Linked DNA regions of Homo sapiens. The protein of the gene in region 1 purifies or fractionates together with the protein of each later gene. This does not show direct contact. Each region holds a gene or a part of one and is shown on either strand. Other genes may lie near its edges. The genes, in order: RPS6KA4, WASHC4 and GBP6.

The links.
Region 2: the proteins of RPS6KA4 (region 1) and WASHC4 purify together in Homo sapiens (affinity purification with mass spectrometry, with the first as the bait; one large-scale study listed by BioGRID). This does not show direct contact.
Region 3: the proteins of RPS6KA4 (region 1) and GBP6 purify together in Homo sapiens (affinity purification with mass spectrometry, with the first as the bait; one large-scale study listed by BioGRID). This does not show direct contact.

What each region holds. Positions count from the first base shown.
Region 1 is NC_000011.10:64,357,662-64,361,491, forward strand, and holds the start of RPS6KA4 (ribosomal protein S6 kinase alpha-4), read left to right. Parts: upstream 1-1,500; 5' UTR 1,501-1,574; coding exon 1,575-1,629; intron 1,630-1,716; coding exon 1,717-1,788; intron 1,789-2,501; coding exon 2,502-2,720; intron 2,721-2,815; coding exon 2,816-2,931; intron 2,932-3,472; coding exon 3,473-3,580; intron 3,581-3,807; coding exon 3,808-3,830. UniProt on the Homo sapiens protein: Serine/threonine-protein kinase that is required for the mitogen or stress-induced phosphorylation of the transcription factors CREB1 and ATF1 and for the regulation of the transcription factor RELA, and that contributes to gene activation by histone phosphorylation and functions in the regulation of inflammatory genes.
Region 2 is NC_000012.12:105,163,231-105,166,730, forward strand, and holds part of WASHC4 (WASH complex subunit 4), read left to right. Parts: intron 1-880; coding exon 881-1,077; intron 1,078-1,410; coding exon 1,411-1,510; intron 1,511-3,500. UniProt on the Homo sapiens protein: Acts as a component of the WASH core complex that functions as a nucleation-promoting factor (NPF) at the surface of endosomes, where it recruits and activates the Arp2/3 complex to induce actin polymerization, playing a key role in the fission of tubules that serve as transport intermediates during endosome sorting.
Region 3 is NC_000001.11:89,370,362-89,374,091, reverse strand, and holds part of GBP6 (guanylate-binding protein 6), read right to left. Parts: intron 1-3,730.

The DNA.
Region 1 (3,830 bases):
CTCCAGGGTCTTGGCCAGTCCGGCCGGCCAAAGCCCGGATGTCCTGGTGAGGTGGAGAGGGGATGACATCCTGGGTAGCCAGCAGGGATTGGGGTCTAAGATCTGGGCTCAGGGGTGTGGGGCAGTGAAGCCCCTGTTGCCCCGCCCCCACCCTCTCCCAGGGCACTGTCTTCTCTCTGTTCACATCCTCCTCCTACTCATCTCCCCTCCCTCCTTGAGGTTGAGCCCCCTCCCCAGGGAGTTCTCAGCCTGGCGGGGCATCACTTAATGCCAGGGGTTGCCAGGAGAGGTGGGAGGGACGCTGGCTCTCTGACCAGGGCCTCTAGCCTGATGCCTGAGAGGCGGGGCAATTCGGCTGGGGTGCAGGATGTGAGTCAGGGTACCTGGGGCCACCCAGGGGAGGGTGGAGCTGCCCAGGGCTGAGATAAGGCAGCCTGAACTTGGGGGGTGCAGAGCTGGGAGGGACGGTCCGTCCGGCCTCCCAGGTGTGACCTGCAGCAGCTTGAGTTCCTCCTCCTCTCAGCCAGGGCTTCACAGGACAGGGGCGTGGGGTGGACACCCTGGCCTCTCCAGCTGGCAGAGGAGCTGAGAGCCCCTCCCACCGGCCTCAGGGTGTGGGGCCTCATGGCTGTCCCACTCTGCTAGGTGGCCCCATTGGTGGTCAGGAAGGGAAAGGCAGGAAGAAGACGGAGCAGGGGCTCAGGAGGACCAGTCAGCAGGGGCCCTGGGCCTCATGGGGAGAGGGGGCAGCCCCGTGTGGCACTGACATCTCTTCTTGAGGCCTGCTCAGGGCTCTAAGCTGGGTACTGCACCAGGCTAGGAGACAACAGGAGCAGAACACGTGAGGTGCGCATGGCACCTGGTGGGCTCTGCACGGTGACTGGGGGCTGAAGTGCTTCTGCAGGCACCCCCGACAGAAAGCTGGTCAGAAAACTGGCCACTCCTCTCCTTGCCATGGGGTCCCAGGCCGGGCTCCAGCCCCCTCTTGGTGATGAGGCTCCTCCTTGCAAAGGCCAGTCCTCTGGGGAGAGGGGCCCTGCTGGCCACCCCCAGGACGATGGAGTGGGGTGGGCTCCACTGCCTGAGAGTTGGGTGACTTCCAGGATCCAGACCCCCTCTCAGCCTGCCCAGCACCAGGCACCTCGTCCCCCACCTTGGGGCACAGACTCCTAATGTCCTCCAGCCACTGGCTGCAGCCGGCATTCCCGGGCAGATTCCTGGCTTGGGGACTAATGCCCCAGAGGCTCCAGGTTACCCACGGGCTCAGGGATGGCTCCCACGGGGTGTTTCCAGTTCCCGGGAGAGTCGAGTAAGGTCCCGGAGCGCACGGCCCTGAGGCCTGGCCTGGGGGCTCGGGAGACAGGGCGGCCCCAGCCGGCCGCCCACCGGCAGCCCGGCGCTGTCACGTTCCAGCCGCCTGACTCAGGCCGCGCAGGGCGGGGAGCCGGGAGGCGGTGCCGGCGCCCGCCTCGGCCCCGGAGGCGGCACCAGGAAGCGCCCGCCCCGGCCGGAGCCGCCATGTAACCGGCGCCGCCCGGAGCCCGAGCCGCGCGGGCCCCAGCGACCCGCCCGCCATGGGGGACGAGGACGACGATGAGAGCTGCGCCGTGGAGCTGCGGATCACAGAAGGTGGGTGTGGGGCCTGACTGCGGCTGCCCGGGGCAGGCCGGGACGGGTCATGGACCGGCTGGGCTCATTCGCCCCCTGTGCCCACAGCCAACCTGACCGGGCACGAGGAGAAGGTGAGCGTGGAGAACTTCGAGCTGCTCAAGGTGCTGGGCACGGGAGGTGAGGACCCCCATCCACCGGGCAGGCGTCCCAGGCGCGGTGCCCCTGACCTCCTGCCTGCTCACTCTTGGGCCTGGGCCAGGCCACTGAGCAGGCCCCCCACCCTTTCCCGGCACAGCCTGCCTTGCCTGCCCCGCCCTGCCTCGCCAGAGTTTGCATGCCCACTTCCAGGGCACTCCACATTGACATCACTCCTCCCTCCACGGTCCTGTGCGTGCATACCCCCCTGGATTTGCCAACACCCTGGGGAGGGGGACTGGCGCCCCTCTCAAGTGATTTGCATAGCTCCTCCCTTTCTTCCAATATGGGATCCCCCTCCCACATTTTGCAAATGCCCCAGCGCTGGTTTGCGCATCCCTTCCCCAGCCAGGTGCACACCTCTGCCTCCCTTCCTTGCACTGGCATCTTTTCACATCCATCTGATCTCTCGCAGGTTTGCATATGCCCCGCCCCCATGCCTCGCAGCAGGCCCCCTGGAGATGCATGCTCCCCAGCCTGGTTTGCACATCCTTTCCCTGGTTTTGCTGGGCACCCTCCCGGGGTGTGCACACCCTTTCCTTAGAAGGCTCTGCCAGCTTTTTGCACACCTGCCTGTTGCCCCAGCTCCTTCGCCTCATTTGCACACCCTCCTGGGTTGGCATCGCCCCCACCCCCCAAGCCTGCACCAATCTCCCGCTCACAGCCCACCCTCCACCCACTCGCTGCTCCCACAGCCTACGGCAAGGTGTTCCTGGTGCGGAAGGCGGGCGGGCACGACGCGGGGAAGCTGTACGCCATGAAGGTGCTGCGCAAGGCGGCGCTGGTGCAGCGCGCCAAGACGCAAGAGCACACGCGCACCGAGCGCTCGGTGCTGGAGCTGGTGCGCCAGGCGCCCTTCCTGGTCACGCTGCACTACGCTTTCCAGACGGATGCCAAGCTGCACCTCATCCTGGGTGAGCGCACACCACATCCCAACGGGGTTGGGGTGGCTGGGGGCAGGCGAGGCCACCTGACGGGGCTGCTTCCTGACTTCCACTGCACCTCCCAGACTATGTGAGCGGCGGGGAGATGTTCACCCACCTCTACCAGCGCCAGTACTTCAAGGAGGCTGAGGTGCGCGTGTATGGGGGTGAGATCGTGCTGGCCCTGGAACACCTGCACAAGGTGGGTGAAGACCTGGCCGCAGGCTGTTGCTATGGAAACTGGGTCTGTGCCTTGGAAGGAATCTGCACGCAGGGCAGCCTCAGGCTTCCCCCTGGGCTTCCTGGGGGGCCAGTGGTGAGCTGGGTGGGAATTGGAGCTGCTTCCCCTGGACCCCTTGCAGGAAGCCTCAACGTTGCCTGGTGGGGTCCCCTCCCCTGGCACCTCCTCGAAGGGGCTTTCCTCTTTCAGGGAACTCGGGGCTGCGTTCACAGAACTTCCTCAAATGGAAACCTCACGGCCTGGCTCCTAAGGCCTCCTTGAAATGGAGCTCTTCACACAGACTTTCCTCTCTCTGGGACCTTGGGGCCTGATCCACGGGGCCCTCCTTCTTTGTTTTATATCTTAAATGGCCTTTCTTATTCAGTGGCTCTGCCCTGGAGACCCCCTCTACAGGCAGATGACTTTCTCTGGGGGGTCTCCTTATCCTGAGCAGGGCCAGGAGCTGGAGGAGCTGGGGAGGGTTTCGGGGAGGAAGCCTCAGCACCCCTCTTGCTCCTACCAGCTCGGCATCATTTACCGAGACCTGAAACTGGAGAATGTGCTGCTGGACTCCGAGGGCCACATTGTCCTCACGGACTTCGGGCTGAGCAAGGAGTTCCTGACGGAGGAGGTGAGTGGAGGCCACCTCTGCCTGCAGTGCCCCATTCAATCCTTCTCCTTCCTGCCTCTTCCTGCTCTGGGCCTGCATTCTGGGGCTGCAGAAGTGAATAGCTCCAAGAAGTTTCCACAGCTCAGCTCTCCAACCTCACAAGTTGAGCGAGTCTTACTCTGGGCCTTGTGGGGCACTGGGGCACAGGAGAGGTTTCGACATCTAAGCAGGACCTCTTGCCCTCCCAGAAAGAGCGGACCTTCTCCTTCTG
Region 2 (3,500 bases), on another chromosome or scaffold:
TACAGGCATGAGCCACCATGCCCGGCCTATAGATTTGTTTTTCATGAGTGTTGTTTACCGTGTTTTTAGCTGGAATACATGATTGACGATACTTGTTTTCTGTAGTTTATAACTTATTGAATGCCTTCTTAGTATTGCTAATCACTTGTCCACTTTGGCCTAATATTTAGGCTTTGTTTTTGTTGGGGTTGTACAGTTTTAACGTCTTATATTTAGTTTCTCTGGTTTCCTTGTAGCTTCCTCAATTGCCATCTTTTTAGCAGTTGAAGTGTTTTTTTCCTTTCTTTTTGAGGCAGGGTCTTGCTCTGTCACCCAGGCTGGAGTGCAGTGGTGCAGTCATGGTTCACTGCAGCCTCGACCTCCTGGACCCAAGCGATCCTCCCACCTCAGCCTCCCGAGTAGCTGAGACTACAGGCATGCATCGCCACATCTGGCTAATTAAAAAAATTTTTGTTTTTTTTAGAGACAGGAGTCTCACTGTGTTGCCCAGGTTGGTCTTAAACTCCTGGGCTCAAGAGGTCCTCTAGCCTCAGCCTCCCAAAGTATTGGGATTATAGGTACAAGTCATGGAAAGTTTTATTCTTTATGCTTACAGCTATATCGTTTCTCCTGGTGATTTATATGGCCATGTTAGTTATTTATTTTCTTCTTAATTGACTTGTCTTTAGTTATACTTCTACATTGTTTTTAAAGGAGGAATTAAGCCATTTTGTTAAACCCATCATTCATTTATGCTGTAAAATGTAACTTGAAACGGGACAAACTTAAAATGCTAGGAATTATTACTCAGAATGCTTAGTGTTGGGAATTATTGGTGAAGGAGTAGAATACCACTTCTGTACTCACTGTAATTTAACCTTAGTTTTGCTTATGCCTGCAGGTGTGGCTTACATTCTAAAGCTTTTGGATCAGTATCGGGAGTTTGATTCACTTCACTGGTTCCAGTCTGTTAGAGAGAAATACCTGAAGGAGATAAGAGCAGTTGCTAAGCAACAGAATGTACAGTCAGCCAGTCAAGATGAAAAACTCTTACAAACCATGAATCTCACTCAGAAGCGACTGGATGTCTATCTACAGGTAGAGAGGAGCCTAAGAGTCACATCTGCTTTGACTTACCATTTGATATCCATGACTTCTTAATGTCTGAAAAGCAGAAGCCATATAGAAACTACCATTTTCACAAGTGAGATGAATAGTGGCAAAAAGATTATATTTTAAAATGAGTGCTATTTGGAAGCCATTTGACTCACATCTTAAAAATGGGCGGGTTACTTATTTCAGTTTCTGTATTTATGATTTCCACTAGAGCTTTTAAAAATAATAATAAGAGGCATAAAAATGCATATATTTTTGGTATTTTGCCATAATAAGTATTTTTGGTTTTTATTTCAAATTTTTAAATTTACTTAGGAATTTGAATTGCTGTATTTCTCACTGAGCAGTGCAAGAATTTTCTTCAGAGCAGACAAGACTGCGGCTGAAGAAAACCAAGAAAAGAAAGAGAAGGAAGGTCAGTGAGTGGTTTAAATTTGGAAAGACCAATAAATGTCTTTAGTAATAGACAGTAATGCACCATTTTATCTGGTCAGACATCTAGCTTCTTTGTCCTTTTGGAAAATAACACAGACCTAGCATTAAGTCTTTTAAAAAAAGTAAAGCCTGTATAGATCTTGTGTGAAATTGAAAAGGAATTTATGTAGTTTATGCATTTCACACTTGGTAACCCTTTAAAACCTTGTTCAGGATCATCTGCTTTTAATTTAAATACACTTTTCACAAGTTTGGTTTTTCTTTCATGGCTCAAACTATTAGATTTGAAGGAACAAATAGAGGAGGACAGCTAAATGTTGCTGAAGGCAGAGCTGCTGATGACTAGATGTTGACTGAATGAGATGGGACAGATGATTAAAGAACTGTAAAATCATAGGGGCTATTTAGTTGTAGTAAATAGCATCCTGCCTTCTTTCATAGTCAGGCCCTGGAGACTCAGGCAATATAGCCATAATAACTGATAGTGATTTCAATGAACTTCAGTCATTAAGGAAAGGATTCTGTCCATTGTATTCTATGTAGGATGGTGGAAAGGAATCTATACTTTTTAAGGCGTAAGAGCATTGTTCAGTGTTTCATATTTAATGTCCCCATGATATATTTCTCTCAGATTTGAAATTTAGGAATAATCATCTTCTCTGAGAAACAGATGTTTCCCTTTTTCTGTCATGGATATTATATAGCATACATTTCTCATTGCTTGGAAGATCAAAACTAGATACAGCGACTAGTTAACCCTTATAATTTTCATGTTTACTAGTCTCCTTTTTGTCTTACTCGTGCTTCATGAAGTTTTCATAAATCAAGATATAAAGCTCTTCATAAAACAAGATGTTTTTATTAATCTTATTTTATGTTAATTTTTAAAATACACCTTTTTTCTTTATATAGAGTAGAGGTGACTCATTGGGTAGACCACTTACGTGAACTACCTTATTTCTTGACATTGTTGCATAAATTAAATATTACTAATATTACTTATTAATTAGGTGCATATCCAGGCGTTTTTTGAATCTAGACTAAATAAACATGCTTGAAAAAATTGTTTCAGCTTATTAATCTGGAAGACACTCAATATTAAATGAAAATTTATACATACTACATTTGTGTTCATTTTCAAGGATAAATTAGCAAAGCCATTTGGAAGAATTTGAATCAATATAATCTAAATTATGAAGAAACTCAGTTATTGCCTCAGTTCTGCTCATGTGTTTCATGATGCCAGAACCTTTTCCCCAGCCCAGGTGACTGGGAAAACTCTGCGGGGCGATTGGACATTTGCTTTCAGGCTAAAGCATTAAAACAAAACAAACAACCCTTCAGTCTCATGGCAGTGGGATTCCTTGCTTTGGCCTATTCCTCTTAAGGAACTCTCCAGAGTTGCAGTTGTTATGTTATCACTCACATCACTGTTCTAAGACTATTTCAGCTAAAGATTGCTCAGAGATATAGTCAGTTTCTGAATACATTACTCAAATAGTCTTTGTCTGTTAATGAAATATGCACACATGACATTTTGCACAAAAAGCCAGGAATTCATTCTGTCAAAAACAGTGAAAAGCTGTTTCATTTAAAATTATTTTAAGAAATAATATATATTACGTATAATTTATTATAATAAGTTATAAATACAAATGGAAAGTTATTCATTCTGGACAGTTTTGATATGTGAGTTTGCAGCCATGTTCCTACCAGGAATGACAATGTACTGTAATGGTTCTTTCTTGGCCCAGCTGGAGGAACTGGCGTGAGGGGAGCGGGCCTTTCTTAGACCAGGAATATCAAGATTCCTCAGGACAAAGGAGCCCATGTGGTTTGAAGCCCCACCCCAATACAGGTTCTGAGCTCCCTCAACTCCACCTTCATTAAAAACCAGTGGAAACAATTGCAGTGTTTAGCCTAGATTTTTAAAAATTTTAAAGTGTAAACAAGGTATAATTTGTGATGTT
Region 3 (3,730 bases), on another chromosome or scaffold:
TTCTTCACATGGTAGCAGGAGAGAGAAGAATGATAGCCAAGTAAAGGGGGAATCCCCTTATAAAATGATCAGCTCTCATGAGAACTTACTCACTATCACGAGAATAGCATGGGGAAACCACCCACATGATTCAATTACCTCCCACCAGGTCCCTCCCACGACATGCGGGGATTATGGGAACTACAATTCAAGATGAGATTTGGGTGAGGACACAGCCAAACTATCCATAGCATGCATATATATATTTATTGAATATATATATAATTTATATATTTTTATTATACTTTAAGTTCTAGGGTACATGTGCACAACATGCAGGTTTGTTACATATGTATACATGTGCCATGTTGGTGTGCTGCACCCATTAACTCATCATTTACATTAGGTATATCTCCTAATGCTATCCCTCCCTGCTCCTGCCACCTCACGACAGGCCCTGGTGTGTGATGTTCCCCACCCTGTGTCCAAGTGTTTTCATTGTTCAATTCCCACCTATGAGTGAGAACATGTGGTGTTTGGTTTTTTGTCCTTGTGATAGTTTGCTGAGAATGATGGTTTCCAGCTTCATCCATGTGCCTACAAAGGACATGAACTCATCATTTTTTATGGCTGCATAGTATTCCATGGTGTATATGTGCCACATTTTCTTAATCCAGTCTATCACTGATGGACATCTGGGTTGGTTCCAAGTCTTTGCTACTGTGAATAGTGCCGCAATAAACATACATGTGCATGTGTCTTTATAGCAGCATGATCTATAATCCTTTGGGTATATACCCAGTAATGAGATGGCTGGGTCAAATGGTATTTCTAGTTCTAGATCCTTGAGGAATCGCCACACTGTCTTCCACAATGGTTGAACTAGTTTACGGTCCCACCAACAGTGTAAAAGTGTTCCTATTTCTCCACATCCTCTCCAGCACTTGTTGCTTCCTGACTTTTTAATGATCACCATTCTAATTGGTGTGAGATGGTATCTCATTGTGGTTTTGATTTGCATTTCTCTGATGGCCAGTGATGATGAGCGTTTTTTCATGTGTCTGCTGGGTGCATAAATGTCTTCTTTTGAGAAGTGTCTGTTCATATCCTTTGCCCACTTTTTGATGGGGTTGTTTGTTTTTTTCTTGTAAATTTGTTTGAGTTCATTGTAGATTCTGGATATTAGCCCTTTGTCAGATGAGTCAATTGCAAAAATTTTCTCCCATTCTGTAGGTTGCCTGTTCACTCTGATGGTAGTTTCTTTTGCTGTGCAGAAGCTCTTTAGTTTAATTAGATCCCATTTGTCAATTTTGGCTTTTGTTGCCATTGCTTTTGGTGTTTTAGACATGAAGTCTTTGCCCATGCCTATGTCCTAAATGGTATTGCCTAGGTTCTCTTCTAGAGTTTTTATGGGTTTAGGCTTAACATTTAAGTCTTTAATCCATCTTGAATTAATTTTTGTATAAGGTGTAAGGAAGGGATCCAGTTTCAGCTTTCTATATATGGCTAGCCAGTTTTCCCAGCACCATTTATCAAATAGGGAATCCTTTCCCTATTTCTTGTTCTTGTCAGGTTTGTCAAAGATCAGATGGTTGTAGATGTGTGGTATTATTTCTGAGAGCTCTGTCCTGTTCCATTGATCTATATCTCTGTTTTTGTACCAGTACCATGCTATTTTGGTTACTGTAGCCTTGTAGTATAGTTTGAAGTCAGGTAGCATGATGCCTCCAACTTTGTTCTTTTGGCTTAGGACTGTCTTGGCAATGTGGGCTCTTTTTTGGTTCCATATGAACTTTAAAGTAGTTTTTCCAATTCTCTGAAGAAAGTCATTGGTAGTTTGATGGGGATGGCATTGAATCTATAAATTACCTTGGGCCGTATGGCCATTTCCACAATATTGATTCTTCCTATCCATGAGCATGGAATGCTCTTCCATTTGTTTGTGTCCTCTTTTATTTCATTGCACAGTGGTTTGTAGTTCTCCTTGAAGAGGTCCTTCACATCCCTTGTAAGTTGGATTCCTAGGTATTTTATTCTCTTTGAAGCAATTGTGAATGGGAGTTCATTCATGATTTGGCTCTCTGTTTGTCTGTTATTGGTGTGTAAGAATGCTTGTGATTTTTGCACATTGATTTTGTATCCTGAGACTTTGCTGAAGTTGCTTATCAGCTTAAGGAGATTTTGGGCTGAGATGATGTGGTTTTCTAGATATACAATCATGTCATCTGCAAACAGGGACAATTTGACTTCCTCTTTTCCTAATTGAATACCCTTTATTTCTTTCTCCTGCCTTATTGCCCTGGCCAGAACTTCCAACACTATGTTGAATAGGAGTGGTGAGAGAGGGCATCCCTGTCTTGTGCCAGTTTTCAAAGGGAATGCTTCCAGTTTTTGTCCATTCAGTCTGATATTGGCTGTGGGTTTGACATAAATAGCTCTTATTATTTTGAAATACGTCCCATCAATACCTAATTTATTGAGAGTTTTTAGCATGAAGAGCTGTTGGATTTTGTCAAAGGCCTTTTCTGCATCTATTGAGATAATCATGTGGTTTTTGTGTTTGGTTCTCTTTTTATGCTGGATTATGTTTATTGATTTGCATATGTTGAACCAGCCTTGCATCCCAGGGATGAAGCCCACTTGATCATGGTGGATAAGCTTTTTGATGTGCTGCTGGATTCGGTTTGCCAGTATTTTATTGAGGATTTTTGCATTGATGTTCATCAGGGATATTGGTCCAAAATTCTCTTTTTTTGTTGTTGTGTCTCTGCCAGGCTTTGGTATCAGGATGATGCTGGCCTCATAAAATGAGTTAGGGAGGATTCCATCTTTTTCTATTGATTGGAATAGTTTCAGAAGGAATGGTACCAGCTCCTCCTTGTACCTCTGGTAGAATTCAGCTGCGAATCCGTCTATATATATTCAATCTCAAAAAAGGGAATTTTGTCATTTGCAACAACATAGATGAACACTGAGGTCGTTATGCTAAGTGAAATAAGTCAGACATAGAAAGACAAATACTGCATGATCTCACCTATTTGTGGAATCTAAAATAGTCAAATAGTTAAACTCATAGCAGCAGAGTATAATAGTGGTTGCCAGGGGCTGGGGATGCGAGAAATGAAGAAATGTTGGTGACAGAGTTCAAAATTTCAGTTATGAAAGATAAATAAACTCTGGAGATCTACCGTACAGCAGTGTGACTATAAGTAACAATACTATATTGATTGTGACCTTCACTTCCGCTAAGAGGACAGATCTTAATTGTTCTTACCACACCAAAAAATAAAAAGAGAGCATAGAAAAAAGAAAACGGTAACTATGTGAGGTAACAGCTATATTATTGGCTGGATTGTGGTGATCATTTCACAGTGTATACACATACCAAAACATTAAGTTGTACAGCTTAATTATATATAATTTTTATTTGTCAATTATACAACACTAAAGCAGAAAAATAAACAGAATTTCTAACGCCTGTTTGGGCAAAAATAAAGTGTATAGAAATTTAGAACCCATTCCCAAATAACTCTCAAAGTAAGATAATAAAAGAGAGAAATTATTTATTTCACCCATTCATAAGAAGCTAAATATCAAAAATTCATCTTATAATGTTTATTGTAGGAAGAACAAATACTTTTTTATGATGAGCACAATCAGAAATGTCTCAAAGCCTTCCAGAATGCTCTGTGGGTAATTGATGAGCTTCATCATGAGAAATATAAACTGAACTCTCCTAATTCCAACCCTC